Linked DNA regions of Homo sapiens: all the other regions are linked to region 6. Evidence: fine-mapped expression QTL. A gene starts in region 6. Each other region holds a variant in brackets. All regions are shown on one strand. Distances are from middle to middle. Region 1 overlaps TNN (tenascin N). Region 2 has its middle 73 kb from the start of KIAA0040. Region 3 has its middle 40 kb from the start of KIAA0040. Region 4 overlaps LOC105371623 (a long non-coding RNA gene). Region 5 overlaps KIAA0040. Region 6 holds the start of KIAA0040.

Evidence for each region.
Region 1: its variant is fine-mapped to the expression of KIAA0040 in whole blood (TOPMed, PIP above 0.99).
Region 2: its variant is fine-mapped to the expression of KIAA0040 in visceral fat (GTEx, PIP 0.91).
Region 3: its variant is fine-mapped to the expression of KIAA0040 in skeletal muscle (FUSION, PIP 0.95).
Region 4: its variant is fine-mapped to the expression of KIAA0040 in whole blood (INTERVAL, PIP 0.92).
Region 5: its variant is fine-mapped to the expression of KIAA0040 in neutrophils (CEDAR, PIP 0.94). The same link has a PIP of 0.9 or more in aorta.

The regions. Positions count from the first base shown.
Region 1 is chr1:175,126,540-175,131,615 of GRCh38, forward strand. It overlaps TNN (tenascin N), which reads left to right. Exons shown (of 19, transcript NM_022093.2): 13 at 416-546; 14 at 1,493-1,625; 15 at 2,056-2,207. Among named protein-coding and RNA genes, the nearest start is that of TNN, 61 kb to the left of the region's middle. RefSeq lists enhancers at 2,737-3,645, 3,646-4,552. The variant G/A (reference allele first, on the strand shown) is at 2,269.
Region 2 is chr1:175,263,690-175,268,765 of GRCh38, forward strand. No RefSeq gene overlaps it. Among named protein-coding and RNA genes, the nearest start is that of KIAA0040, 73 kb to the left of the region's middle. The variant C/CA (reference allele first, on the strand shown) is at 2,881.
Region 3 is chr1:175,230,698-175,235,773 of GRCh38, forward strand. No RefSeq gene overlaps it. Among named protein-coding and RNA genes, the nearest start is that of KIAA0040, 40 kb to the left of the region's middle. The variant C/A (reference allele first, on the strand shown) is at 2,069.
Region 4 is chr1:175,306,189-175,311,264 of GRCh38, forward strand. The region is part of intron 1 of LOC105371623 (a long non-coding RNA gene); the gene reads left to right. Among named protein-coding and RNA genes, the nearest start is that of KIAA0040, 120 kb to the left of the region's middle. The variant C/T (reference allele first, on the strand shown) is at 2,979.
Region 5 is chr1:175,155,379-175,160,454 of GRCh38, forward strand. KIAA0040 reads right to left here. Exons shown (of 4, transcript NM_014656.3): 4 at 1,608-5,076. Among named protein-coding and RNA genes, the nearest start is that of KIAA0040, 35 kb to the right of the region's middle. The variant G/A (reference allele first, on the strand shown) is at 2,130.
Region 6 is chr1:175,189,659-175,194,734 of GRCh38, forward strand. KIAA0040 reads right to left here and starts at 3,118. Exons shown (of 4, transcript NM_014656.3): 1 at 2,982-3,118. RefSeq lists enhancers at 2,321-2,370, 2,511-2,560, 2,801-2,950, 3,671-3,780.

The DNA of each region.
Region 1 (5,076 bases), 63 kb before region 6:
CTTTCCAGGCGGGCCAAGTCACCCTGGTTTCTTTGTGCATGGCCCTTTCAGATCTGTGGCCCTCTTATCTTTCCACATCCTTTTGGGAGCCCTGCCATCTCTGAGGATCTATCTGCCAATCTAGGCTGTTAATATCCACCACTTTGTGGGAACCTGCCTGGGAAATGGGGGCCCAGATTCCTTTCCTCTGGGACCCACCCAACGCCCTGTTCTTCTTGTCTCTAATGGGTCTGTACTTGTAGAAACAAAGGTCAGAAAGGCCCTGTGGCAGGGAGGAAGAGAGCCTGCAAACTGCTTGAAAGAAGGAGGAGAAATGGGAGGGTTTGAAAAGGGGAAAATATAAACTGATGTCTCAAAAATTACCTTGCCTCAGTTGTATCTTAGTAATAACAATTACCTGACTTTCTACGTACAGAACTCGACCCTCCCAGAAACCTTCGTCCATCTGCTGTAACGCAGTCTGGTGGCATATTGACCTGGACGCCCCCCTCTGCTCAGATCCACGGCTACATTCTGACTTACCAGTTCCCAGATGGCACAGTTAAGGTACGGGGATTCCTTGTCTTTTCTCCTGGTGCCTTCTCTTCTGTGTGAAGCAACTAACTTGGGCCAATCAGCTCATTTGCTGGCCTCACGGCAACTTGCTGATCTTTACTGATCACATTGCTGGTTGTACATCTGCCCCGGGTTATTTTGTTTATTGTTAGTCTTCCCCAATAAATGTAAGCTCTATGTTTGTCTGTTTCATTTATCACCATATCTAAAGTGCATAGGACAGTGCTTAGCACATGGTAGGTGTTCGATATATATTTATTGAACAAATTGATTAACCCTTATTTCAAGGGTTATACCTCCCCTTAGAATCTGAAGGCCAGCAAATTTTCAAAACCTGTCCCAATGGAAAATTATTATTCTCCCTCCTTGCCAATGAAGAAAGAAGGGAGGAAATAAAAACAGGAAGGACACTTAGGTTTATGTGTTACCTTAATTAGTGCTTATGACAGCACAGCTAGGAAGGTTAGCCCTATGTTTATAGAGGAAGTAAGACTGGTTCAGAAGGAAGTTTATTGAAATATCAACTATCTCCTTGTCTCAGATATCAGTGGCCAGTTTCACCTCCCCTATTAATTTCTCCTTAGCGCGGCATTGCCAGCCTGTTCCTGCTGGCAATGTAGCCACTATAGTTAGAGCCCCTGTGTGTATCTGAAGGCCAAAGTCTCCCAGAAACTTGGCCGGTGATCCTGAAGCTGCAGTCCTGGGTGCTGGTTCTCAGCTGATGCTCCCAGTAGTGCTGACTCTCCATGGCATGGCTCTCCAGAGAAGTGGCTGGGACCCACTGCGATTCTGGGCTGCCACTGAGGCTTCGGAGAGACAAAACACTGTGCTCTCAGAGAGCTTCTGTCATTAGCACCAGGGAACGCTGTTGACACCTAGGGTGCTAGTGGGTGATAAACTGAGTCACTGGCTGTCTAATCTCTCCCTTGTTTGGTAGGAGATGCAGCTGGGACGGGAAGACCAGAGGTTTGCGTTGCAAGGCCTTGAGCAAGGCGCCACCTACCCTGTCTCCCTTGTTGCCTTTAAGGGTGGTCGCCGGAGCAGAAATGTATCCACCACCCTCTCCACAGGTAATATGGAATCCTGTACTCTGAACGACCGTGCAATGAGAACCAGCACCGGAAAGCCTAGCAAAGGAGTCCAGGGAGGAGCAAGTGGATGCAGAACTATTGATTTCTCTAGGCATGGGGAAGTGGAAATGGGGTTGTGTGTTCAAAAGAAATCCACCCCACAGTGGGGAGGCTAAAGAGAGGAGTGAAATAGAGTGTTACTTTGTGAGGGAGCTGAGTTGGGGGAGGAAGTGATGTGAACTTGACCTTTTCCTGGTGCATTTGGGGAGTTGATGAGAAAAATAAGATATGAGTGAAGAGTTGGAAGAAGCTGAAGTAGGAAGTTATGAAATAATTTCCAAACAAAATAAATTGCCTTAAAATAGGAAGAAACTCCACCTCTTTCCTCCTTGCCCTTGTCCTAACAACACTCTCTCTGCTTGGCTCCCAGTTGGTGCCCGTTTCCCACACCCTTCGGACTGCAGTCAGGTTCAGCAGAACAGCAATGCCGCCAGTGGTCTGTACACCATCTACCTGCATGGCGATGCCAGCCGGCCCCTGCAGGTGTACTGTGACATGGAAACGGACGGAGGTGGCTGGATTGTGAGTCACGCAGAACCCTGGGGAGCTCTGTGTAGGGCCTTCCTTCTCAGCCCAGGATGCC[G/A]GTCATGGATGCTCCATAGAGTGTTTGGAGCCCTATTTCTTCTCCACCCATGGAAGAGAGGAGTTTTGGTGGCTTGTAGCTGTTTTTAGAGAGATCCCAATGTTACAGGAAAGGGGTCCCCATCCAGATCCCAAGAGAAGGTTCTTGGATCTCATGTAAGAAAGAATTCAGGGTGAGTCCACAATGCAAAGCAAAAGCAAGTTTATTAAGAAAGTAAAGTGGTGAAAGTACAGCTACTCCATAGACAGAGTAGGGCGTTTCTGAAAGTAAGGAGGAATGCATGCACCCTATGTACAAGACTTGTTTATATATAGGATAAAAAAAGATCATGAGGGGATGTGCTCTATTACAATGGTTCGTGATAAAGGATTAATTTTCTTAATTACTATATTTTGCGAGAATCAATATTATTATATTTAAAGCAACATTAGGAGTGCTTCTGTTCTCAAGATATCAGGACATTCCTAAGTCTGGGTCTGTTTAGTAAACACTGTCAATCTGTTCCCTTAACCATAAACATCTGGAGGCTAGGAATACCTAACTTTCTGGGAATGCAGCCCAGCAAGTCCCAGCCTCATTGTCTTAGCACTCACTCAAGATGGCTCTGGTTCAAATGCCTCTGACACCAATCAACTGTAAGGATAGAGCCTAGTACTTAACCACTGTCCTAGAACAGGCTTGGTTAGACTAAGGCTGATGACTATGAAGGCTTGTGAGTTGATCATCATCTAGTAATGCCTTATATGTATGTATTACCTATATTTTACCTTCTTCAAAGCACTTCTGTACACATGACCCTCACACAACAGCTTTAGAGTAAGTGAGAGAGGATTGTTTTTCTTATTTTACAGATAGGGACAGTGAGTCCCACAGAAAGAAGTGCCTGGCCTAAGTCATACAAGAATGACAAAGCTGGGACCAGATTTCAAAACTCCAGCCTCCTAATCATTGGTCTTCTCAGTGAGTTCATCTCAGGTCATCCAAGATGCGAATGCATAGCCTGACTGGGGAGTTCAGACCTCTGAACTGGAGTCCATTGTCCAAGTTCTGTACCCTGTCTCCACAGTACAGCAACAAGGCCTTTGAGGTTTTGATTGGAAAGACTAAAGTCTGAAAGACGGAAACTTGGGCAATGCTCTAATTGTCCCTCTTCTGTGTAGATGTTTTATTCTCTTGGGCCATTGTCTGCCTAAACCACATGGCAGCTTCTTTGATTGCATCAGCCTGATCCAATTATATGATAAGCTGTTTTTGAGGGTTGCAATCTGATCCTTCCATCTCCCCTTGCCCCTTTTCTCCCTGTGCCTGAATGATAAAGACTCTCACTGCTCCAAGCCAGCATGCAGCCTTAACCTGCTGTGCATCCGCAACTCACTGTGGGAAAGAGAGAGCATGATCTCATAGTGCTCAAACCTTATTCATTTACACATTCACTCAGGGGCCTGGGAAACCAAAGACACTTGAGCAGCCATGAATAAAAAGATACCATCTGATGAGCAGCAATGAAGAAAACTTATTATCTGCACAGCGACATCTGACGGTTGAAAGGCAGTAATTGGATTGGCTGGGGGAAATTCCCGATTGATTTATAAAAACAACAGAGCAGAATGTAACATGGGAGGTCTTCCACCTGACCAGACCCATAGGGCTGTACCTGCTGCTTTTCATCAGCACCATTGTAAGGCTAAGCATTCTGTCCCTTCAGGCCTGCAGCCCAATTTCCTGCCTTTGTGCCTGTAATTGACTTTTGGCAGGACGTTTGTATTGTCTAGTGTGGCCTTTTTGTAAGCCAAGCTCCCACACAGAAGGAGTTATCTGGGGCAACATTTAGAAAGAGATCTGTCAGTCTGTCTGCCCTGGAATAGTCATGACTTATTGCACATATATTTATTGAGTGCCTACTATGTGTCGGCACTGCTTCATGTACTCAAGATCCAGCAGTGAACCAAACCAACAGAAATCCCTGCCCCCAAGGAGCTTGCCATTTACATCCTGCTCATGCAAATGACCCCTCCTCAAACACAGAGATCGGTTCCAAAAATAATAAAACCACTGTGCATTCTCACCCTCCCCAGCCCCAACCCCACCCCAAGTCTTGTTTTCTGAGCCAGACTCCTGGGGGTCATGCATGAACTGAGGTTCTGCAGGGTTTTACTTAAAGCCACCATGCTCCAGAAAACATGGAGTCCTGAAAACTTCCCCACAAAACATTTTACTGACAGTTGTTACAGTTTTTTTGGGGGGGTTCAAGAGTCCTTTGTCACTGAAGGATGACCCATGGTCTGTTTCTCTGTTTTATTGAGCTTTCAAAATCCTTTTATGGTAATTCTTCCATCCCAAGCAACAGGAACTCAATCTGAAGAATAGGCCAGAAGAACTGTGCCCTGAGGTAAACTCTGCCGCTGGTGGGAGGCTGGAAAGAACATCAGGGAACACTTAATGTTTCAAATATTTCCATCTTTGTTTTCCATCTTGAAAGTCTTAATGCATTAGAGGCTCTTTCCACAGACATTTCAATGCAAGTTTGACTTTTTTTCTCTGTATTTAGTCATTCAGGGCATTGAGTAAGTTCTAGAATGCAATGACAACTCTAGTATAGAACCAGACACAAAGAGGTTTCTTTTGTTTGTTTGTTTTTCTCCCTTTGAAACTTATTTGGTAAGGGGGTTTTGTGATACCCAAATAGTTCATTATAGGGTGTTTTCATCTCATAGAATGGGAGTGGATTAGACTCTGAGTGAGTCAATTAAGGCTGCCTGATCAAGATGTATAAATGATCCCTGTGGGTCAGTTCATTTGGAAACTGAT
Region 2 (5,076 bases), 74 kb after region 6:
AACATTTTAAAAATCTGCTAACATACATCTTTTATTAGGAAGCTAGTGGAGGGTGTGATCCACCAAAATGAGGGAGTAATACCATGTAAGAGAAAACTGTGCAATCCAGGAAACAAAGGATCAAACAACAGAGAGAGTTGAGTGGCATCCCCATAATGATGGTGAGCAGACTTAACAAGATGAACAGTCTTGTAATATAGTTGGACAGCTGGAAGCTCAGGATGGAGCTGGTTAGAAGGCTTCAGGATGGTTTCCTCAAGAAACAGAAATTGATAGAAAATTGATAGGATACCTAATATACCAAGAGGGATTATACAATTGGTGGAAATGTGAATGAAGACCATGAGTCTACCCCTAGACATAGAGCTTTCAATCAGCTGAATTACTGGTAAGTATACAGAAAAAACTAAAGGTGCATTCATAAAAATCTAAGCAAATAAACAAAAGACAACTAACTTCAAGGAAACCAGAAAGTTTTGCAAGAAAGGAAAAGTCATTATAGTACATTACATGGCTCAGTTACAAAACATGTTTACATAGTCATCATAATATAAGCAAGTAATATTTATGCTACCAAAATTCTAAATTACAAGTAGGGTGGAGGGATGGAAAGTGTATGCTGGAAACAGGGATGTATGTGAGAGAGAACATCCTATCCTCATCTTCTACAGTAGAAAATCAATAGGTTACATCTAATAATGGAAAAATCAGGAAGTAGTAATATAGTGATGGTCTTTATCAAGATAGGTAACACAGGGGAGAGGAATTATGAGGGCTGTAATAAGATGTATTGTTGAATTGGGGGTTTTGAGATATCTGTGAAACAACCAAGTGGAGATGTCTGCTAGGCAGTTGGCTTTATGGGTCCAGTGCCAATCAGCTTGAAGAAGGGTTCTTGGAAGGAATTAAGTCCTACATAAAATTATTTGCATGACTATTTTTCTCAATTATTTCCCAGAATGATTGATAACTACTCACATTCTAAATACATAGGAGAGAAGTCCATTAATGATATACAAGTCATACCTAAGGGCACTAGAGCTTAATGTCCTTGCAAAAGCAACTGAGAAGGGCTGATCGGTACTGTGGGAAATAGAGATTTGAACTCATTGTCTGTCTTGTCTGGGGAGTAGATGAAACTGGAAGAGGGCCAAGGATAACTGCTAGGGGACACTAACAGTTTAGAGATGGGCAGGGCAAGAAGCAACTACAAAGAGACTAAGGAGTAATAAGAAATACTCGAGAACATGGCATCTAGAAGATACAGAAGGGATTTTGAAAGAGAAGGTACATAGGAGGCGCCAACAGATGCAGAGAAGTTACATGAAGTAAGGACTATAAGGGGGCTATTGATTTTTACCTATAAGGAAGTTGTGAGTGACCTTAGTTGAAGCAGTTCACTGGAGTAGGTGGTATTCAGAAGCCAGATTTCAGTGTACTTGGAACCCAGCAATCAGTCAGCCGAAACTAGCTGTTTCTTAATGCCCATCTCTGAACCAAAGCTAACATTTCATTCATATTCCAAGTCACATCTAGGAGGGAACCGTGTTTTCACCCAGGAGACCACTTAGACACACAACATTGGGTTTCCACAACAACTTTATGAGAACATTTCTAGGGATTCAGGGACCCTGGCCAATCTTATTATTGCATTCTTTAGATTGTTATTTTTATGTTTTTTTTTCTTTTTTGTGAAAGCTGACATGGGATGAGTCCTAAACTGACCAGGGGAAGAGTGTGTTGTATTACCTTGTTGTTTAAGTAATCTCTCAACATGGGCCAAGAACTACTGCTAGAAAAGTAAGAGCTTCCCTGTAATAGAACAGGTGCTATTCATCTGTCACTGAAACTTCAGGTGGTATGACCTTACTACTCCAAATATCTGTCATTATTTATCATTTATTCATTTATTCAAATACAGTAGTCTCCCCTTTATCCACCAGGGATAAGTCCCAAAGCTCCCAATGGATGCCTAAAACTGTGGATAGAACAGACTTTTATATATACAATGTTTATTTTCCTGTACATGCATGCCTATGATAAAGTTAAATTTATAAATTAGTCACAGTAAGAGATTAACAACAACAATAATAAAATAGGACAATTATAACAATATGACAGCATCACTACTCTTGCACTTTGGGGCCATTATAAGTAAAATAAGAATGACCTAAACACAAGCACTGTGATACTGAGATAGCTAATCTTATCACTGAGACGGCTACTAAGTGGACTAATGGTCAGGTACTATATACAGTGTAGATACACTGGACAAAGGGAGGACTCATGTCCTGGGTGGGATGGAGGGAGACAGGGCTAGATTCCATCCCTCTACTCAGAACGCCACGTGATTTAAAACTTATGAATTGTCATTTTCTGGGATTTTCCATTTAATATTTTCAGATCATAGGTAATACTAAAGTCATGGAAAGCAAAACTGCAGAGAAGGGAAGACTATTTTATTTACAGTATCCTAGGAGTTATAGAGATAAAACATGGAGCAAATATGAATCATGCTCTCAAGAAGTTTATAGCAAAGGGATGGTTCATGAGCCCAAGTAGCACTGGTACAAGGTAAAAAGGACTAGAGGACCTTCTTCTTCTGGAGGGTCTTCTATCCAAATCAGCCATACACAGGAGGACTAAAGTGGGGTGGGGTCTCCTATGAAGTGTATTAATGGTTTTGCCTTGACGTTGTCCCCCATCTGATCTAAGTGTTACCTCAGTTTTTCCAAAGTGGTATGGGTTGTGAACTCTCAACCTACAGGACTGCTTTCAAATTGTGTAGCTGTGCCTCATATGCAAATAGAGGGTGAATTGGAGGCTCCATCTGAAGCTTGTTTTTGGAGTTTGTTATAAAGCTCCCTCTTCAAAGGATAG[C/CA]AAACAAACAAACAAACAAACTGTTTTTCCTACTGTCCACTCTCACATTTAATACAACACAGCACCTCTGTTTATCAAAATGTGTGGGGATTTCTCCGCACATACAACGAAGCAATTCTGTAGTAGATTGTCCAGTAGAACCCAGGTGGGTGTCCTACAGTTTAACTAAATTCTGATTATCTACCTGGAGATAGCGTCAGATCTCACAGGTTGAGGGCTCAGTCCCACAAGACTGCCCCCACCCTTGAGATACTAGCATGGTCTGTGCTTCTAATCACCTGGCTATCAATGGGGATTCCCATAATCCCCTCTTTGAGTTGGTAGAGTGGCTCACAGAACTCAAGGAAACACTTTACTTATGTTACCCATTTATTATAAAGAGTATTACAAGGGATACAGAAAAACAGCTAGTAGAGAGATGCACAGGGCAAAGTTTAGAAGAAGGGGCACTGAACATTGCTCCCAGGCCGTCTCTTGGTGTGCCACCCTCCAAGAAGCTTCATGTGTTCAGCTATCCTGAAGATTTCTGAAACCAGTCCTTTTGGATTTTTATGTAGGTTTCATTAAGTAGGCATGATTGATTAGATCATTGGCCATTGGTCACCAATTCAACCTTCAGTGTTCCCTCCTCTTCCCAGAGATTAGGGGGACCCAACTTTCTAATTAGGCCATGGTCTTTCGGGTGACTAACCCCCATCCTGAAGCTCTCAAGGTGCCCCCATCTACCAGGCATCTCAGCATACAAAAGACACTCATCACACCAGAGATTTCCAAGGGTTTTAGGAGATGAATGTCAGGAAATAGGATGAAGACCAAATATGTATTACAAAATAGCATACTTCCTACAAAGGAATTATAAACTGGGGTGCATGGGTAAGGTGATACTCCTGAGCTGCTGGGTGCTCAAAGAGTGTATCAAAATTTAAACAAGGAACCTCAACACTTGTAACTGAAAGACCCAGATCTTACTTATCTTTGGCTATGAAGTCAAATCAGATTTACAGTAATACTCCAAATATCAATGCTCAGAGCCTAAACATCCTTGACAGGCAGAGATCCCTTTGCTTCCAGGAGTTTCTCTTCCTAAATATTTCTGGGGCTGCTCTCACAGATGTTTGTGCATCTCAAATGTTCCCTTGGTTTCCTGGGGTTATGCTAGGTTGGGATCTGTGGGGGGCCAGCAGTTTCTCACAGTTGTCAGCAGAGCCTCTGCCAGCAGCTCTGACTTCCACAGCCATTGGTCAGCCAGGGATGCTGTGTATTCTTCCAGCTGGCCTGATGGCTTTAGGATGCTTCTCCCTCTGCGTCCATGGGGGAATGCCTTTCTCTGCTAATCAGCTCTTTCTGGAGTGTTTTGCAGAGCACAGCTGTTGAACTTCAGTGACACAGTCTCTCCTTTGCCCTACAGCCCATGCCTTCCCAGAGTGGACAGCTCAGCTAAGAGGAGTTTGGTTGGGTGATGTCAGACTCCACATCACACTCCCCTGGAACATTCACTCCTCCAAATCCCAGACCTATTCTACCACTAAGCTCACTTATATGTTTGTTTTGTTCTTGGCCATTAGGCATAGCAGGGCTGTTATTGGGTAGCCACTTTAGAGTCCTTTAATATTTCTGGGCAGTTAAGATGCTCCCTAAAACATGCTCAAGGAATCCCAAGAATTTCTTGAAGAAAGTGTTGCCTAATTTCACAACACTGACCTAGCCAGCTGTGTGTAGGGGTGGGGGGAGGTTAGGATAGGAGGCATATTTTTAATTTAAGTGTGAGAAAACTAATAAAATTATCTTTAAAAATGTAAACATGTATATTAATGCCTAGAAGGGTTACTTGGGGCAAGGGTGGTGAAGTGGGCATACAAAACCAAAAAAACACGTGAAGTTTTGATTGTAACTTTCAAACCTGAGCCATTGCCAGCAGTGGTAGCTCCACAGGTTTGAGGCAGCTTGGCTCATTAAATAACATGTTATTATAATGTTTGCTGGAGAGTCTCAGCTATTTGTAGATTAGTTTCTGAAAATTCATTTTGCCTTAACATTTGTACTAGACAGAGGAGGTGGAATGTATGTGTTGTAGGAGGTTGAGAGAGCAAAGTCTAACTGAATATGAAGTAAGGAAGTTGGGGAGGATAAAAAATATTTTGGGAAACTGGACATTTGTCATTCTTTTTGGCTGACTACTCAACTCTTCTCCTTTTA
Region 3 (5,076 bases), 41 kb after region 6:
CACAACCCCTTTTTCTTAATTGAGACCTAGATCTTCTTGAAGACCCGACTTCCTCTGCAGCCTCCACCAATAGAGGCTACTCATTGTACATTCCATGCATCCTCCACCCCTGAAAAAGTTGCTGTTTTCCTAACTCACACCTCCACCTCCAGATCAGCACTCATTAATCTTCTGATGGAAGCTTTTTTTTCTTCTAAGTCTTATCACTCACTCATATCGTGTTCTTTCCTCCTGGTCACTGACATCAGCCTATGTCCTGGTTAGTTCCTGTATTAGTCAGGGTTTTTTTAGAGGGACAGAACTAATAGGACATATATATATATATATATATATATATATATATATATATATATACTTAATAAACTCCCCTTTATATATATATACACACACACATATATGTATAATAGAGTATATATAATGAACTTCCCTATATAAACACACATATTCACACACATATATATACACACACACATATACATGTGTATGTATATGTGTGTGTGTTTGTGTATATATACACATATATGTATGTATACACACATATGTATGTATACACACATATGTATGTATACACACATATGTATGTATACACATATATGTATGTATACACACATGTATGTATGTATACACATATATGTATACACACATGTATGTATGTATACACATATATGTATGTATGTATACACACATATATGTATGTACATACACATATATGCGTGTATATATACACATATATGTATGTATATACACATATATGTATGTATACATATATGTATGTATGTATATACATATATGTATGTATATATACACATATATGTATGTATATACACATATATACATGTATGTATATATACACACATGTATATATACACACATGTATATATATGTATGTGTATATATACACACGTATATATGTATGTGTATATACACACATGTATATATACATGTATGTGTATATACACACATGTATATATACACATGTATGTGTATATACACACATGTATATACACATGTATGTGTATATATACACACATGTATATATACATGTATGTGTATATATACACACACATGTATATATACATGTATGTGTATATATACATATGTGTATATATACACATATATGTATATATACATGTGTGTATATACACACATATGTATATATACATATATGTGTATATATATACACATACACACATATACATACACATGTACATGTACATCTATATACATATATGGGAGTTTATTAAGTATTAACTTACACGATCACAAGGTCCCACAATAGGCTGTCTGCAAGCTGAGGAACAAGGACCCACAATAGGCCGTCTGTAAGCTGAGGAGCAAGGAGAGCCAGTCCAAGTCCCAAAACTGAAGAACCTGGAGTCCAATGTTCGAGGGCAGGAAGCATCCAGCACAGAGAAAGATGTAGGCTGGGAGGCTAGGCCTGTCTCTCCTTTTCACGTTTTTCTGTCTACTTTATATTTGCTGGCAGCTGATTAGATTGGGCCCACCAGATTAAGGGTGGGTCTGCCTTCCGTAGCCCACTGACATGAATGTTAATATCTTTTGGCAACACCCTCACAGACACACCCAGGATCAATACTTTGTATCCTTCAGTCCAATCAAGTTCACACTCAGTATTAACTATCACAGTTCCCTTCCTTAATTGATGATTTTGGGATGTCTGTCAGTCATTGTCCCCATTTATTTTGGACACAGTCCCAGGATATTTTAACATTTGTCAGACAATCCAACAACCCAGTCTCCAAACTGCTAGACATTGTTGACTCAAGTGTATTATATTTCTTTCCTCATCAACCAACGTCTGCTTGGGCAGTACTCCAGGATCCTGCCGTCTGATCCCAATGTCCAGTCCTTAAAATATTCTTCCATTACACTTTGACCTCATATGCACTTCCTGTCCCTTGATCACTCCATTTTCCTCACATTTTATTAACACCTTTCTGACTACTTTTTTTCTGTATGCAACCTAGATCCCATGGGTTATACAGATATCTGAATCACTCTTCTGCAAGCATCTTTGATTCTTTTTCATCCTTTTGCTTCTGTTATA[C/A]CACCTAGTAAAATTCCAAACTAGAATCAATAGTACTATTACTCCCTGTCTCCTTTGTTCTGTACCTGTGAAGAGAGAGAGGAATATACTGGAAAAATAATTGTGTAGTCGTACGGGTTGGCGTTGATGTGCTAAAAATTTCATGGTCTCCCATTTTAGCTTGTCCCTTAGCCCTGCCTCTCAATCTTTCATCTTTAATTAACACTTTCTCTCATTTCCTTCAATGACTTTCATATCTTCATTTTTTCAATCCTCATACTCAACCCCTATTTCTTCACTCTCAGCAGAAAATCAAGAAAAATCAATGAAATTAAGCATAATTTCTACCCCTGAATATAAACTTTTCCACATTTACCTCAACTGTGATAGATATTTACCCATAGTTATGCCCACCCTTTTTCCTTGATAACAGAACCTTGATTTGGTTTAGGTATCTGGTACTCATGTTCTTCAGGGAGACCAGTCTCTTGCCTAGCCCCAGTGGATTGATCATAATTAGCCTAGCCCAAAACTATGATTACTTCATTTCCCTTGCCAGCACTTGGTTTAGACATGTGAAAAAATTCTGGCCATTGAATGGAAGTCTGTTGAGGGATGCTGGGAGTGTTTTTCTCTCTCAAAAAATGGAGCCCAAAAAAGAGCTCTTTATCCCTGTTTTGTTCTGAATGTAGACTGGAGCTACTGCAGTGGTCTGTTTACCATGACGGGAGTAGCTGATGTGTTGAGAGTGCTGGATAGAAACAAGGAAAGAAACTGAGTCCTTGATGATATTGTTAAGCCATCAAATTAGCCAACCCTACCTGTAACCCTCCCACTCTTTGACTTTTTGATAAATAAAATAATAAAGTTGTCTTATTCTTTAAACTTTATGTGGTTGGTTGGATTTTCTATTGCTTGCAAGCAAAATCATTCTAAATATTACACTGCCCCTTTTTTCCAGTCCCTAAAGTCACTCTCCTCTTTTAAAGGTCAATCTCTTCACCTGTGCTCTTAATCCTGTTGCTTATTGTTTTTTAAAAGGACTTTTTACATCATTCATCCCCCTTCCATCCTGTATCTTCTACCTTTCCTTCTCTAAGTCTGTTGACTTACTTATGTTCTCCAATGTTAAAAGCTTCCCTTGAATCACATCTTCTAGTTCTCAACAAACCTCTCTTCTCCCCTTGTCATACAAATTTTTTGGAGTCCATTGTAATTCTCATCTCTACTTCTTCACTTCCCATTTCTTCTCAATTCACTGAATTTGGCTTCTGGTTCCATCATTCCATCAAAATGGTCAAGTTATAGTTATTAATGAGGACTTGAGAAGATCATGGCAGACGGGAGGTAGGACTAGATTGCAGCTCCGGAGACAGCAGCATGCGGAGGCTTGCATTGTACATTTTAGCTCCAGATCGACTGCAAGAACAAACCAGCAATCCTGAGAGGACCCACAGACCCTCTGAAGGAAGCGGACTGCTACTGCAGGACTTGGGAGAGACCCCAAATACTGTGAGTGCCCCAACTGCAGAAGTGGGAAAGGGAGACCCTCCTCTCCCAAACACACACACACCCACTGGAGAATTTGAAGGTCTGTTTGCAGGAGATGTCCCTGACTTTACTTGGAACTGAGTCAAGTTAGAGAGCTGAGCCTAGCAAAATACAGGGGTGGAGGAGGCAGCAGGGAGGCCCTGAGAGCTCACTGAATCCCCAAGCAGCCCATTCCTGCCTGACACTACAGGGATCCATCAGGAGGGAGGCCAGAAGGGCAGGGGGTAAAACCTCACAAGGAGAAGGACTTCCCTAGCTGAACTTTGTAACAATCTGGCCAGAACTTGGGGGAGGGTGCAAATCCTGCTTGCAGACTTCACAGACTGAGGAAGAACTAAAGCCCTTTTCTTTCACAAATGGGAGGCAGAAAGTCTGGGGCAAGTTTTCAAGTGTGCCCTCTGCCTGGAAACAGATTCGAGGCTGTGGTGGGGGGCATGTTGGGAGTGAGACCAGCCCTTTGGTTTGTGTGGGAGCTGGGTGAGGCCTGTGACTGCTGGCCTTCCCCCACTTCCATGAAAACCTGCATGACTCAGCAGAGGCAGCAATAATCCTCCTAGGTACAAAACTCTAGTGACCTGGGAATCTCATTCCATCCCCCACAGTAGCTGCAGCAAGGCCTGTCCTAGAAGAGTCTGAGATCAGACACACCTACCCCTGCACGCACCTGATGGTCCTTCCCTACCTATCCTGGTAGAGGAAGACAAAGGACCTATAATCTTGGGAGTTCTTGGGCCCCGCCTACTGCCAGTCCCTCTCCACACTACTACAGCTGATGCCCTCTGCAAAATGCCACCTCCTGACAGAAGGCCAACCAGCACAAAAATAGAGCATTAAACCACCAAAGCTAAGAACCTTCACAGAGTCCACTAACACCCTCTGCCACCTCCACTGGAACAGGCACTGGTATCCACAGCTGAGAGACCCATAGATGGTTCACATCACAGGGCTCTGTGCAGAAATCCCCAGTACCAGCCTGGAGCTGGGTAGACTTGCCGGGTGGCTAGACCCAGAAGAGAGGCAACAATCACTGCAGTTTGGCTCACAGGAAGCCACAACTGCAGGAAAAGGGGGAGAGTACTACTTCAAGAGAGCACCTCGTGGGACAAAAAAATCTGAACAACAGCCTTCAGCCCTAGACCTTCCTTCTGACACAGTCTACCCAAATGGGAAGGAACCAGAAAACCAATCCTGGTAATATGACAAAACAAGGCTCATCAACATGCCCCTCAAATCACACTACTTCACCAGCAATGAATCCAAACCAAGAAGAAATACCTGATTTACCTGAAAAAGAATTCAGGAGTTTAGTTATTAAGCTAATCAGGGAGAGACCAGAGAAAGGTGAAGCCCAAAGCAAGGAAACCCAAAAAATGATACAAGAATTGAAGGGAGAAATATTCAAGGGAATAGATAGCTTAAAGAAAAAACAATAAAAAAATTCAGGAAACTTTGAACACACTTTTAGAAATGTGAAATGC
Region 4 (5,076 bases), 120 kb after region 6:
AGCCACCACCTACCCAGTCAGGCTGTCCAGAGTTCTATACACCATCATTATAACTTCCTCATCCACATGTTTGGTTCTGTCCATTTAATTCCTAAATATCTCTTGAGGATATATATTTTCCCAGCTCTACTAAAACCACCTGAGTTCAACTTATCCTAATTTCTCATCTGAACCATTCCTGATTTCCCCCCAAATCTTGTGTACCCCTTCACCATTTACACAATAGCCACAGCCAACTCTCTTAAATGCAAACATGATCATCTCACTCTCCTGCTTGGGCACCTCCGATGGCTTCCCACCACTATTTTTTTTTGTTTGTTTGTTTGAGATGGAGTCTCACTCTGTCGTCAGGCTGGAATGCAGTGGTGCAATCTCAGCTCACTGCAACCTTCGCCTCCCGGGTTCAAGCAATTCCTGTGCCTCAGCCTCCTGAGTAGCTGGGATTACAGGTGTGTGCCCCCATGCCTGGCTAATTTTTTGTATTTTAGTACAGACAGGGTTTCACCATGTTGGCCAGGGTGGTCTCGATCTCCTGACCTTGTGATCCACCTGCCTCGGCCTCCCAAAGTGCTTGGATTACAGGCATGAGCCATCGTGCCCAGCCCCACCACTCTTATAATCGATGAAGATTCAAGCATGGCTTGCAGGGCCCTGTCTGATTAGGTCCTGCCGTCCTTCCCAGCTGCACCTGTGTTACCCATCCCCACCCATCTGTGCTTCAGCCACTCTGGTTCTTCATCATGGCCTGCTCCTCACCTTCACTTGGAAAGGCAGTTATTCTTTATACCATTTTACAGATAAGGACACTGAGCTTCAAAGTGACAAAAGGACTTACCCCAGGGCACACAACCAGTAAGAGGCAGAGTGTGTTCTGGAATCTTTATTGAATGAATGAATGCTTGCATGCATGAATGAACAAGTGAATGGTACAGTAAACAAAGGCCCTAGGTCAGGAGTACTTAGGTGGCTCAGTGGAGATGCATTGAAGGACATGGTCACCTGTTAGGACCTGCCAGGGCTCTCTTCGGCAGTGTGTGCCTTACTATGTGTGAGGAGGTGCTGTCTTGCTTTCAGTGTGTAAATATCATGCCTTGATGGAGAAACTGCAGCAGAGAGGCCCCGCTGCCCCAGCACATCTGTCACAGCCCACACAACACCTCCAGAGTGAGAGCAACAAATTCAACGAACTGCCAAGTTGTCTGTACCACCTGGGTGCAAGCAGGAGTGAGTGTGAATGTGATAGTTTCTGTTCCTTTTCTTTTTATAGGTTGGGAGCTGGGAGAGGTGAATGATTTTCAAGGTGGCTATGAGCCTTTTGCTCTTTTATATTGCCAGGCAGAATCAGGGCTAGGATGTGACAGGCTGTTCCCCCAATCCCAGGCCGCCGGGGTGAGGCTGGGGGACAGAGAGTTCCCAGCTCCTAGCTCACAGTCAGTGGGGTGGAGTGGGGGACCTTCTCTGATAGCCCACACTTCTGTCAGTGGGAAGTTTTGGATTTGTTCTAAGGGGCAGAAGCAGATATTCCTTCCTATGTGGGGCTATTGTGCAAAGTTTGGGGGCAAAGCCGGGTGGAGAAATGTGGGTATTTAGAATAATGGCTGCCTTTTCAAATGAAAACTCTTTAAACATTTGTTTCATATCTATGTAGAACTGGGGCTAAGACTGTAGTTACAAGGGGGATATGAGGAAGGTGCTGATGGCAGTGCTCTGCCTCTCTGTCCCTTGGGTCCCAGGCAGCCCACTCAACACAACAGAAATCCACAATCCTTAGGAGCTACTCAAAAGCCCCCTCCTAGAAGTTATCATCTATACTAGTAAAGCATGCCCTTTGCTGGGCTAACTCGAGAACCCAGCAGGCCTCTCAACTAGTGTCGTGGTCTCCTGGGAAGAGTTTTGAAAAATACAAGGGCTCATAGTGAGGTGCCCTCAACCCACACATCTGAAGGATTGCCATTAACTACCTGTTTGTAATGGCTGCTGAGGGCCTGGGGCAGCACAGGTGGTGGAGGAATGGACCGGAACCTGACTACTGTCCTTAGAGAGCTTGTGGCTCTGAAACATACCGGGCTGGCTTTTGCACACAGCCTGGTCTTCTTCACCATTCTTCCCCAGCAGAGTCGTTGTGGGGCTGGCCTCAGATGTGGAGGTTTTGTCCCACTCCTGCGTCCTCTGTTCCCTTCGGCTCCAACCCCACCCTTGTCCCCTTTCTGCTCTCAGGTGTCTATCAGCTGACCCTTGATAGCAGGTTGATGCTCTTATTTTGCCCAGAGCATTTCTTTAAGGCAATAAGTTGTTTTGGAGAACCAGGTGAGTGAAATTTCAGGCCATAACACTGTTATGAAGATAATAAGGCTGCTTTTCAACACCTTTTAACTTCTACCAAGTTAACACATTCTCAAGTTGTAAGAACATCTGCTGTAAAGCATTTTTCTGCCCATTTTATAGTTTGCCCTTCACAATAGTCTGTGAAGTAGGAAGGACATTATTCTTAATCCCATTTTACAGATATACGGACACTAAGCTCCTGAGTGACAGAAGGACTTATCCTAGGGCACACTACCAGTAAGAGGCAGAAAGAGGTTGACTACTGATATGGTGTGACTCTGTATCTGCACCCAAATCTTACCTTGAATTGTAATCCTCATCATCCCCACGTGTAAAGGGCAGAACCAGGTGGAGGTAATTGGATCACGGGGGAGTCTCCCTCATGCTGTTTTTGTGATAGTGAGTGAGTTCTCACAAGATCGGATGGTTTTATGTCTAGCATTTCCTTTGCTTTCACTCACTCTGTCCTTCCGCCCTGTGAAGAAGGTGCTTGCTTCTCCTTTGCCTTCCATCATGATCGTAAGTTTCCTGAGGCCTCCCTAGCAATGCGGAACTGAGTCAATTAAACCTGTTTCCTTTATAAATTACCCAGTCTCAGGTATTTCCTCATAGCAGTGTGAGAACAAACTTATGCAACTATATAGGTCTTTTGA[C/T]GTCAAATACAATGTTCTTTCCTCTGCTCCTCAGATAATCTTAATATTTGCTCTTCTTGAATATTTTATGGATCTGTCCTAAATTTTACAGTACTAAAAGCTGTTAATTGAGTTTCTTTCATAGACGGAAGATACGGTTGATTCAATTCAGTTTACATCAATTCTATACTGAGTCCAAAGAGAGTTCTGGGCTAAATACTGGAAATAGAAATGGAAAGCCAAGGCTCTTCCCTTAAAGAGTTCACAGATGATGGGAATTCTCTTCTCACCGGTGCTTTCCCAATTGCTTCCCAATCCTCTCCAGCCCTTTGGAAAGAAAATAAACCCTTTACTCCGCCAAGCTGGAGGTCTTTCCTCCTCAGGGTGTTTTTGTCTTGGAAGAGAAATAAATGGTTCTGCAAATCTGGTAGTGGGTTGCAGCCAGGCTCTAATAGGAGAGACCTGTTTGGGGATGCTTCACTGGCTCTCGATCTGAAAGAAGACCCTGTGATAAACAGGATCATGACGGAGAGCAGCATACCTCCTTTAGCACCAAGAGGTGAACTTCGAATTGTCCTTCTTTGCTGTGAGCTCTGTGGTAAGGTCCACCCTTGCAGGAAGGGACTTTATCAGCGTTTCTTGAGAGACTGAACTGATCTGTCTGTCTGGCCAAGAGAAGTAGATGTGAGGACCATTGATGCCAGTCACATTCACATGTTGACCCGATCCCAGGTGACCTTCACAACTAACATGCCATTACAGAGACCTACTGTGGTGACTACATTTGTTTAAAACAAAACTGGACCATGTAGCCCAACAGTCATGGCCAGGACAATTGGAAAGAAAAATCAGCATTGAAACATCTCTGAAAAAGCTAGAGGTGAACATCTGCCCCCACCCTCCCCTGCCCCTAGTCGCTTCCTTTCTGTGTACTGGATTTCTTATCTGGGAGGATGAATTGGGTAAAGGGGTTTAGCTGAGGGTGTTTTCCTCTGCCACAAGCTGAGACTACAGCTGGTTAGCCCTTTGCTTTCCCTAACATCATGGAACACTCCCTTAGGCATGCGACTTAGATATTCACATTCTCCTGGGGAGCTTGGGTGGTGATACTGCCCTTCCTTGCTCTGTTGACTGCAATCCTGGACCTGAATATCATTCTTAGGTAGAATTGTGGCACAAAATCTTCTCTTCCTTCTATCTTTAGTGCCTAATTACCCTGTATTTCTTTCTTCTTAAGAAACCTTTAGGACATATGAGATTGTGAGGTATTTGGGGATCTTAAACAATCGATACCATTTATTATTGTCCATCAGGTGAAGCAACAGAGCCAAAGGTCTAATTTACAAGTGACTCTTGGTTTGAAATCTAAATGATTCCTAGGGAGCCATGACAAACTGAACCATTGTAAGACAAACTCTCATTTTCTGTAAGTGTCATTTTATCAATTCCACTTTCTACCTTGGAATCTAATCTCATACCACAAAAATACCCAGAGTAATTCCGACAAAATGAAACTAAAATAAAACACAGATATAAGCTTTTCAAACATTTATAAACTATATAAAGACAAATTCAATAGAAAAGCTATAACAATGTTCCATTTGGGCGATCCTTTTGTCTTTTGGGCTGAAATGAACCAGCCTGAAGCTTTTTGAAATTTGCTTCCATGAAGTCTGGATTGAAGTTATCTCTTCTTTCTGTGATAAATCTCCCTGTAACAGTGGCTCTCAACTGAGGGTGATTTTTTTTCCCCCAGAGGACATTTGGCAATGTCTGGAGACATTTTTGGTTGTTACAACATGGTGGGAGGCGGGGGTCCTACTGGAATTTAGTGGGTAAAAGCACAGGGCAGGTCCCTAAAACAAAGAATTATCTGACCAAAATGTCAATAGTACTGCTGTATTGAAACACTGCTTTGTAGCGTGGACATTTCAAACCGAGTTAACATTAGGTCATTTCGTTGAAAGATAAAACCAGATTTATGTGAATATGTCTCAATTTCTTTAAATGGTACTGGTTGGGGGTTGGGGAGGATAGGAGGGCAGGCCGTTCCACATTGACTTCTTTAATCATCTCTTGCTTTTCCAAGTCAATAAATCAACTGGGTTACCTTTAATTG
Region 5 (5,076 bases), 34 kb before region 6:
CATTTATTGGGCACTTAATATAAGCCACGTCCTGTGCTAAATGCTTTGTACACACGATCATTTAATGCTCCCTATGAGGTAGCTACTCTCATTAGCTTTATTTAGCAGGTAAGTCTTACAGAGAGATTAAGCCATGGGTCCAAATTACATAACTAGTGAGAGTCGGAGTTAGCATCAGGGTTGGGACAACCCTAGTCATGAGTCCTAGCTCACTGCACTTATGGCTTCCAGAGAGCCCTGATGGTTTCTGAATCGTCCCCATCATCCTGTCTGCCTGCATCACTACTCCAGGGTGCACTTGCCTTTGTAGACTGTGCAGCTGGGGCCCTCCTTTCTCAGTTTCTTCCTGTGCAAGTCTCTAGACACCTCCTAGGCGATCTCCCCCGGCCTGTCCTGAAGCCAGCCTGGGAGCTTCCCTCTAAGGAAGCAATGGCCACACTGTCTTGTCATGGTTTGCTTGTCTGTGCCCCCCTACCAGGTTCTGAGCCCCTCTAGGACAACTTAGTATCACTGGCACCTAGCGTGCTTGGCATATAGTAAACAGTCAGAAATGTTAATGGGATGAACAGCCTCAAAAGAGGGCTGGAGGTACACAGTCACAGCCATTCCTGAAGAAATATAGTGTGACATTGCCCACACAGGTGTTTGAAAACAACCCTTTGAGTCTAAGACAGAAAGCGGGTTGAAGGGATTTTTTTCCAGTCCAGTAAACCTGTGACTTTGAATTGGGAAATACTACTAAGGTCAACGGGCAAGGGGCCAGTGCAGAGTGCTGTGATAAACTGAGAATGCTAAGGACGTGATGGCATTCATTGTCCAAATCCATATTATACCCCAAGGCCAGGATGGAGCCGGGGCAGGTGCGGCTGCAGGCATTGAGCACTGGCATCCCCTCAGGGGTGCAGCAGCTGCTCCCCTCCCAGATGGTTTCTGAGCATCAGTTCCTCCTCTGCACCAGAATGTTTAGCAATGTCCTGGGTGGATGAACAAGGAGCTGAATGAAGAGTCTCTGTTCTCTGGTTGTCATGAGTGTGTGGTGATGGGGAAGGGAGCCCAGGAATGAACTCATCTGAACTACAGACATAACCTGCCTTGGGCGAGATAAGGCAAAGAGTCCACCTGTGCTCTAGGCCTTCCTTCTTAAGCCCTCCTTGAAATCCAGTCAGCATGGCTGTTTTTCCCAGGTGTCTGACCCTGCCCCCAAGATCATAGACCTATGCTGTCCAGGATGGCAGCCGCTAGCCACGTGTAGCTACTGAGCACTTGAATCGTGGCTGGCATGGCCAAGCGCAGTTGCCCATGCCTATAATCCCAGCACTTTGGGAAGCTGGCGGGTCACTTGAGGCCAGGAGTTCAAGACCAGCCTGGCCAGTATGGTGAAACCCCATCTTTACTAAAATATAAAAAAAATTAGCTGGGCATGGTGGCACATGCCTGTCATCCCAGCTACTCAGGTGGCTGAAGCATGAGAATTACTTGAACTCGGGAGGTGTAAGTTGCAGTGAGCCAAGATCATACCACTGTATTCCAGCCTGGATGACAGAGCAAGACTCCATCTCAAAAAAAAAAAAAAAAAAAAAAGAAAAAAGAAATATGGCAGACATAGCTGAGCTAGTATACCTTTAATTTTATTTCATTGCAATGAATTTAAATAGTCACATGTGGCTATTGGTACCATATTGAACCATATTGAACAGTGTACACACACTTACACACACACATACACACAGTTTTTGCCCTAGTGGCTACTATAGAGGTTTTTGATCCCTCCTTTCCCAACAAACACTGGATTTAACTCAAAGGTCCATTCTTCCTTAGGTTTTTGCTATTTCCCCCCTTTTCCTTTAAGAAGCCATTGATGGACCTCATTGATGGAAAGTTCTGTAAGTGTTGCCAAGGAACATCAGTATATTTTTCCTGTAGCTGGCACCTTTGAGGGAGTCTGGTCTCCAAGGCCATCTGTTTTGCAAGCAAGGGTGAGACAGCCACATTCCTCATCCTCAGACCTATGACTCTACCATGGCGAAGGCGGTGACCAGGGAGGGCTGGGACATTTGTGTCACAGAAAGAGTCCCTGCATTGATCATTTCTGAGTGATGTCTGAGTGGGGGTAATACCTAATGTTAAGA[G/A]AGTAACCATCTGACTACATCAAGACTTTTCATTTTCAAAGTATTTTATTTAAATAAATTTTTCTTTTGTGTGTGTTTGAATTTTACAGAAAAAAATACTGACAAATACTATACAGCTTGGACCCTTTATATTTTTCTTGGAAAGGTGGCTGCCATTTTTCTACCTTTCTCCCTCCCTGCTCCCCCCAAGAAAAAGAAACATGGAATCCATTGAGCAATGGGGAAAGGAGCAATGGGGAAAGGCCTCCTCTGGCTGCCGTCCGGAGCCTGGCTAAAGCTGCTCAGAAGTCCAGGCCTAGGGGATGTCTTTCTCGAGCCTGTGCTGGTCTAGGAAGCCTCTTCTTTAGGAATCATTTTTTTGTCCCCCGTGAACTTACCCTCCCCAGATGAGTCAAGCAGTCTCTGGTCCTGAGGTCCCATGGGTTGCCAGTGGCAGTTCAGGGACAGAGGCTGGAAGGAGTGAAAATGGAGAGGAATAAAGGGCTGGGGCTGGTCTGGTGCAGGCAGAAGAGGGAATCAGAGAAGCATAAAACATGGAGAAAAAGATGAGAAGGAAGTGGAAAGAAGAGAGTGGATATCAACAATGGCCTTAGGCTCCTTTCATGCACCTGTTTATTTAACAAAACGTTTAGGGCCTATCCTGCACTGGGACTCCTCTAGTTACGCCAGGAAAGGTTGTCAGGGGAGTCTGTGATGGGGAAAAGAGAGGCCCCATTCTGGGTTTGGCTCTTCTGAGTCATCGGCTGTGGAAGTGACTGAGAAGTGAGTTTCTGGGTGTTTCATCCCTGGGGTGAGAGCAAGTCCATTGGATTAGGAGACAGCAGGGACATTGTGCCTGGAGATAGAGGCCTTGTCATGGCAATGACAACTGACTGCTGTCTTAATTCAAAGGAGCAAGCAGTTGCCATGGAAACCATGTTACTTGTATGGTCCCGGATCCCGGTGATCCGCCCTCCTAGATCATATCTGACACTACGTCTCAGCTGTCAGCCTCCACCTCTCCCCAGCCATCCATTCTAGGGGGACTGAGAGGTGGAGACAGGAAGGGCAGCTTGTCCTGGTGAGCAGTGGCAGTTGTGGGGAGATGTCTTCCACATCCCTGGGTTTGGTGCAGGCAGATGGCAAGTCATTCTGTTATGTGAAGGGCACAGCCAGAGGCCCCATGACAAACTCTCTATGTGACAAGGGGATAGAGAACCAGAGTGCTTCTTTCTCTGGTCAAAGGGGTTGATGAGTGGGAGGCCTGAGTGCTTAGGCAGTTTATGGCCATATAGGGTGAGAGGGCAAATGTGACTGGCTATAAAATATATGCAGGTTTAAATTATGATTCACAGGGTCATCTGTTAGAAAACCCTGGTGCAAGGGTCACCACTAAATGCCCACCCTCCACAGGCCTAAAGTACACCTGGAGGGCAGGTGAGTACCAAGCAGCCCAAGTGAGCAAATAGAATATATCTTTCCTTTAATGCAATCTTATAGAATTTAGTTTTTTGCTACTATAAATATCATAGTTTAGCTACATTATTAATTAGATAGCAATTTTGCCACTGTGTAGAATAGCTTCCTTGGGAAAATATTTCAAGAGAGCTGCCCAGCATATTTGTAAATAAACTTCTAGAGCATAACTTGCTCCCAAGGAGTGAATTGTCCATCTTTGTAATACAGTCACAATACAATAAAAATACCAAGCAGTTCATCCTATAAGTGGATTAACTCTGCTTCCCAACCTCACTCTGGCGGGGAAAGCCCTCCTCAGCTCACTGTGGATCTAATTTACATGTCCTCACATACCTCAAGGCACATGTGTCACCTACATGTGCTCTCCAGCATTAAACACCCAATTTCATCCATTGCAGCAATTAGTGGGCTCACTTAGAAGAGAAGATCACTCGGGGAGAACTGGTGAGGTATTACAAGCTTACCCTTAACAACATCACATATCCAACAGTAACCACAGTTAGTTATAAGTACCTACTGTGTGCAAGGCACTTGCCTGAGCTTCAATATAAATATAAATAAACCTCTTTATAGCTTCATCCTACTTTCATTTAAACTCTGTTACCTCTGCATCCCACCTGTGCCATACCGTGCACACATCACAACCTTATGACATCACTTCCAGTGTTGCCTTCTGTGAGACTGCACTGATGATTGTCTAGTTCCTTCCCTGCTGGAAACTTTGGTTATATAGGAGATACCTAGCTCAGGTGTAGCATCTCCTCACCCTTTCCATCTGTAAACATTGCACAGGTACACAGTTGCAGTCCACTGACATAAATGAGTGGGCTTCCATAATTTTCTAGCAGTCACCACCAAGAGCTCTTTGTTCTTGCTTGGAGAAAGGCACTTTGCTGAGTGGTTTGCGGGGGTAATGTTTCACAGAGAGGTCTTGGATCACATTAAACACCTCTCAGTGGCAATGAGGACGGACTTTGTCATGAGTTACAAGAAAAGAGCTTTCAATGAATTTTGAACCATCACACTTTAAACATCTTGGCACAGGTGAGGGGTCAGAGGCACAGAAACTTGGTGTGTCTGTATCAAGACACACAAGGGTGGGGACTGTAGCAGGTTGCTGGAATGTCCAATTATGAGTACTTCCAGTAAAAGTTTATGTGTAGAGTTAGAAATAGGAAAGCATGCATCTGTAACCTGAGTGGTTTATGGAATAGATGGTGTATGGGGGCCTTGCTGGTTAGGAAATTGTATATATGTGTCTGAATCTGGCAAGGCTTTCCCATGAGACATTTTTGTGACTGTAGATAATGTACTTCCCTGCACAAAGTACATAGCCAATGACCATTTGATGAGCAGAATATACTTGCCCACGTACCTGCTACCTGAATTTGTGTGTGTGTGTGTTACGTGCATGTGCACACACTTGGGAACCATATTGAGATGTATGGATAAATGTTCTTTGTGCTTTGCATGTGGGGTATGCCAGAGA
Region 6 (5,076 bases):
AGTCCGTCTAATTTTGGTAGTTTCAAGAGGCAAGATTAGAAATAACAATAAAACCCCTTACATTTTTATAGAGTCTTACAATTTATGTAGCACATTAAATGTACTTTCCTTTTCAATTTGATTCTGATTCTAACCATTGCCCTGGTGAGTAATAATTATCCCCATTTTAAATATAAGGGAAATGAAGCTTTCAAGAACTTGTTCAAGGTCAGCTAATAAGCAGTTAAGCCAGGAACTGAACCCATGTATCTCTAGCTCCAAGCTCAAGGTTTTTTCTTCCATGCAGGTCACACAAGATCCTGAGCCGAGCACTGGCAGCCAGACCTAAATAACTACTCTGTAGGGGTCTGAAATTAGTCAGAGTAGGTCATCCTTCTTGTTTTTATGAAGTCAGGACTCTCCCACACAGGGGTAGGTAACTAAAGACTTGGAGTGTGAGTTCTGGAAAGGTCTTCACAGATCTTACAACTGAACTAAGTATTAATTTTTCACATGGAGGAGTGATAATTAAATGCATCTTTACTATCTATGTGCCATGAACCCAGAATTCTCTTCTTTATTTTAGGAATTATCCTCCAAGGTATCCTGAGAAAGCCTTGAGCGTTCGGAGAAAGTCATCTGGAAGTCAACATATGATATGAAAATATCTATAGGCCACTATTGACAAATACAAGACTCTTCAGCACCAATGTGGTGCTACCACAGGCCTCTTTAGCTGCCTTCCACCTCCACCTATGTTCCAGACCTGTATACCCAACTGCTTATCTCCATCTGGACATTTCCTGGGCATATTCAACTTTAATATGCCTAAAGTGTTCATCACTGCCTTCTCCACAATCTGCTTCCCAAGCCCACTCCTTCTCTAGCTTACATGATTTTTATTAATGGCTCTACAAGGTACCTTCCCCTGCCTATCCCACTCAACACCTTATAATCACTCTCTATTCACTCATTCCTCCTTTACCACATTCACTTGGTCACCAAGTACTTCTGATTCTACTTCCTAAAATCCATTCCTTTTCCTCAGTTCCCACTGCCATTGTCTTAGCTGAGGTCTTAATTATCTCTGCTTCCCATCTCTCTAAGCCAGCCCCCATCTGGCCAATAATTCTTTTTCCAAACACAAATCTGACCGGATCCTTCCTCTGCTTAAAAACTCAAAAATGGCTTCCTATAGGAGGGAGTTCACCCTTCTCAGTCTAGCAGTGTAATTCCTATTACACGCTATTCCCTACCTGCCATTGACTTTGCATACCCTCTTTCCTTTGTTCAAAACACACTTTCCCTAGGAACTCCTAGTCATTTCCAAGACCCTGCTCATCCATCACTTCTGTGGTGTGGACTTCACAGATAATTCTGGGGAAGGATCTCCTGCCCTCTCCCCTGGATTAGTCAGTGCCCTGTAGCTACTGCTATTACAATGTATATTATCCTGAACTGCAGTTTATTTCTGTATCTGTCTCACTTACCAGACTGAAGCTCCTCAAAAACAGAAACCATCTCATTATCTTTGGACTCCAAGGCCCTGGTATACTGGCCTGCACACGGTAGGTTTGGCAAATGTTGAATGAATGTATGGAATGGATGCATCTCCCTCTTTGGTGAAATCAATAACTTAGTTTGTTGAGTGTTTATTATTCTCTTGGGTTTAGTCTTTAGGGAAGAGGACAGAAGTCATACTCATTTCACAGGCCAAATATTGACAATGCATGGAGGCCAAAGAAACTTTTGTTTTACAACGCATCTCTTTCCTAAAATTGTATCTGGGATGGGGACAGAGAGGCAGAATTTCAGACAAAAGGAAAGACTTGGTCAGATTTTCCTGTACAGCTGCCTCTCCAGCCCAGCACTGGGTGAAGGGCAGGCACATCAGACTAAGTGGTTGATGCAACTGAACCAGTTTAAAGGCTGGTAAGACGCTTGCAGAAGTCTTTAGATAGAACTTGCAAACCATTTGCAAAAGGGTTAGGAACAGGTTGCATCAATGCTATGTTTAAGTCCTGCTCTTTGTAACTCAAGGCTCTCCCATTATCTAACAGAACTTCAGAATGAGGGTTCCTTAAAATTAGCTTCAGGTCCTTATGAGCTGTAGCTGAGCAAATGAAATGCAACTGCTTTAGAAGGGAGGAGCTTCCAAGATGCTCCAGTGGTCTTTTCCTTCCCTTCCTCGTATAACGCAATCGGTGGCACAATCCCGCTAAGTAGCATGGCATGCTGGCTGCCGGTGTTCTGTTAAATTAGGGTGAGTGCTTGTCTGTGCTTCAGTTTCCCTTTCGGTTAGGCAGGACTGGTCTTCCCACTAGCTATCATCTATAGTTTACTTAACTCTATTATCATATGATGAATCCCGTAAAGCTCTTCAGAATGTTAGGGAAACAGGTCCTATTATGTCCCCCACTCTACCTTCATGGGTGGGATGGGGGGTCTGGGGGTGGGACCACTGAGAGTCAAAGAAGTTAGGAAGTAATCTGTGTCACAGCAAGCTCCCTGGAAACTCTCAGAATAGCAAACAGGTTTCCTCTCCGCCCCTGGCTCCACGCCATATTTTCGTTTTGGCTAGTTCCTTAGCTCCAGAGAAAATCTGGCTTCACCTAGAATGGTTTAGAAACACCTAAGCCCGCGATGCTTTCCGGAGGGTCTCAGGCCTTAGCTTTCTCAGTAAAAAACAGAATTTCCATGTGTCCCCTTCAAAGCGCTCCTACCGGCAGCTGGAGTAAGGTAACTCCACCGCCGACCTCCGAGGAGTTCATGTGGACTCAGCCCAGGCGCAGAGAGGAAGACTCCTGAGAGTCCTCGCGAAGGAGGGAAACACACCAGAACTAAAGTTGTGAAGGCGCAAGAGGCTACTTAGGAATAATTCCTTGTATCTCTGGGGCAGGTCTCATCCTTCTAAAGACAGGAGTGACTGGGCGTCTTCTTCCAAACAGAGGGCGCTTAAAAATGTATTTTTAAAAAACATAACAGAAAGTCCTGAAACTCACCTTTCGGTCCGCGGAAGGGCTTCCTGCAGGCCCAGGGAATCTCCTGGTTGCTGCCCCGTCTGACAGCGCCCCGGGCCCTGGAGGGAGGTGTGGGTTCCTTTTTGGTTGCCTCTGCACTCCCACCCCGAGCCAGGTCTGGCGTGTAGGGCCCCGGCGCCGGCCAAGGTCGTGGGAGCCGCCCGCCCCGCCCCGCCCCGCCCCGCTCCACCCCCGCGCGTACCTGCCGCTGCCGCCGAGGGCAGCGCCCTCTGTGTTCCCTGCCTTCCTACGGGCCGACGCCTGGCATAGTTGAGGTTTCGCTCCAACTCTGTCCTGCCCCTGATGTCACAGGCACAACTTCCTGAATCTGGCTCGCCGTTCCGCCCGCTCCAGGGGCTCGGCCCAGGCTTTCCACCCTGGGCCAGCCCACCTCGGGTGCCTCTGGCCTTGGGCGCACACGCCCCAGACGCGCCCTCCCTCCCCGTCTTCCCGCCGGTGGCTCCCCACTCCCCGCCCCCCGCCATTACGTGTCCTTGCCCCCTCAGTCCCGGAACACGCCTCCTTCAGGACACAGCGGCTGCGGAGCCAGCCCCGGTGTCTCTCACAGACGCACCAGTGTTCCAGGAATGGGACACAGAACTCCGGGCAAACCCGGCTTCAGGGAAAACAGCTGCCTAAATAGAGGGCCTTCCTGGAAGGGGTGGGAGGCGTTGGAGAGGGATACCATGCGGCAGGTTGGGTGAAGGCTCCGATGTCTTATCGGGACAAATGAGCATGACAGTCCCCTCTAGCCAACGCCGGTTGCTCCAAGGGGTGCAGGTGACATCTCAGAAGAGTCTTTGTCTCTGCTGCCTGGAGGCGCTAAGGAAAACTGCGCCCCAGGAGCTGTCTGTCACAAGCAAATGACGGAGGGGAAAGCTGACTTCAAAAAGTTCTCAGGGGTTCTTCCCTCTCATCCTCAGCTGCTCTCCATCTACTTTCTATTCAGATCTCTTGGCTCTAGTTCCGAGCACATGGGATGCTAGGAAATGAAAAGACCTGCGCCCCTTTGAATAGGGGACTCCAGACACAAAGCTCTGATGATTCAGAGCTTGTTCAGTGCCTCCAGGGATACTGTGGGTGGGAAAAGAGGGGGATGCCAGGACCTGGCTGTGGATCATTTCAGGGGCCTCCTCAGTGTCATCCTGGGAGGTCCTCCCTGACAAGGGCCTGAAATGCTGTTCCCTCGACTGTATTTGCCAGGTACACAGGTACCAGGTGCCAGGTGCTGAACCAGGACTTGCCCTCCATCGACTGTGCCTGAGTATGGGTGTCCTTTGGCTTCTCCAAGTGGGCATTAAAATGACTGCTGCAACCAACTGTCACAACTGAGATTCAAGAGATTCCTTTCTGTTTATTCAGGAGAAACCACGTGGCTCTGAGTTGAAAGGCCAAAGAGAAAACCCACCATCCAGCCTGAAACGCCAAAAATGGCTAGAAAAAGAGGAAAATAAGTTATTTATTTATTTATTTATTTATTTTTTACAGAGGAAGACTAGATTCACAAGCCGGGAGAAGCTCAAATCTGTAATGACACTTTGAGCCTGCAGTTGTCTACCTATGTACAATGTACCTATGTACCTATGTAGGTTCCTCTAAAACTCCTGGAGCCTAAGGCCAGAGTATAGAGTCTAACAGGGCCATGAGGAAGACAGGCCTGGGATGGATGATAGTAAGGCCTTGAATGCTGGCCTGAAAATTTGGGAATGGGGATCTCCTGCCTGGAGGTTTACACACAGTGTATCATTCAACCTTTCACAACACATTTATGAGAGGTAGTATTATCCTCATTGTACAGGTGAGGAAATTGTGGTTGAGAGGAAGCTAAGGAAGTTCCTCAAGGTCACATAGCTAATAAATGGTAGAGCCAGGTTTGAATCCAAGTGTTTCCAACCGCCGCTCCCCCTGACCCAGTGCATCCTTTTACCACCATATCATCTAGTAGAGGAGGAACTTGCCTTCTGTGAAGGAATTCCACACTTGAGCAGGGATCATGTACAGGTCTTGAATGACGCCTATTGCGGGGAGGCCATAGAAAATACTTTCCTGAAAGTCTGGAGCAACATTACAGATTGGT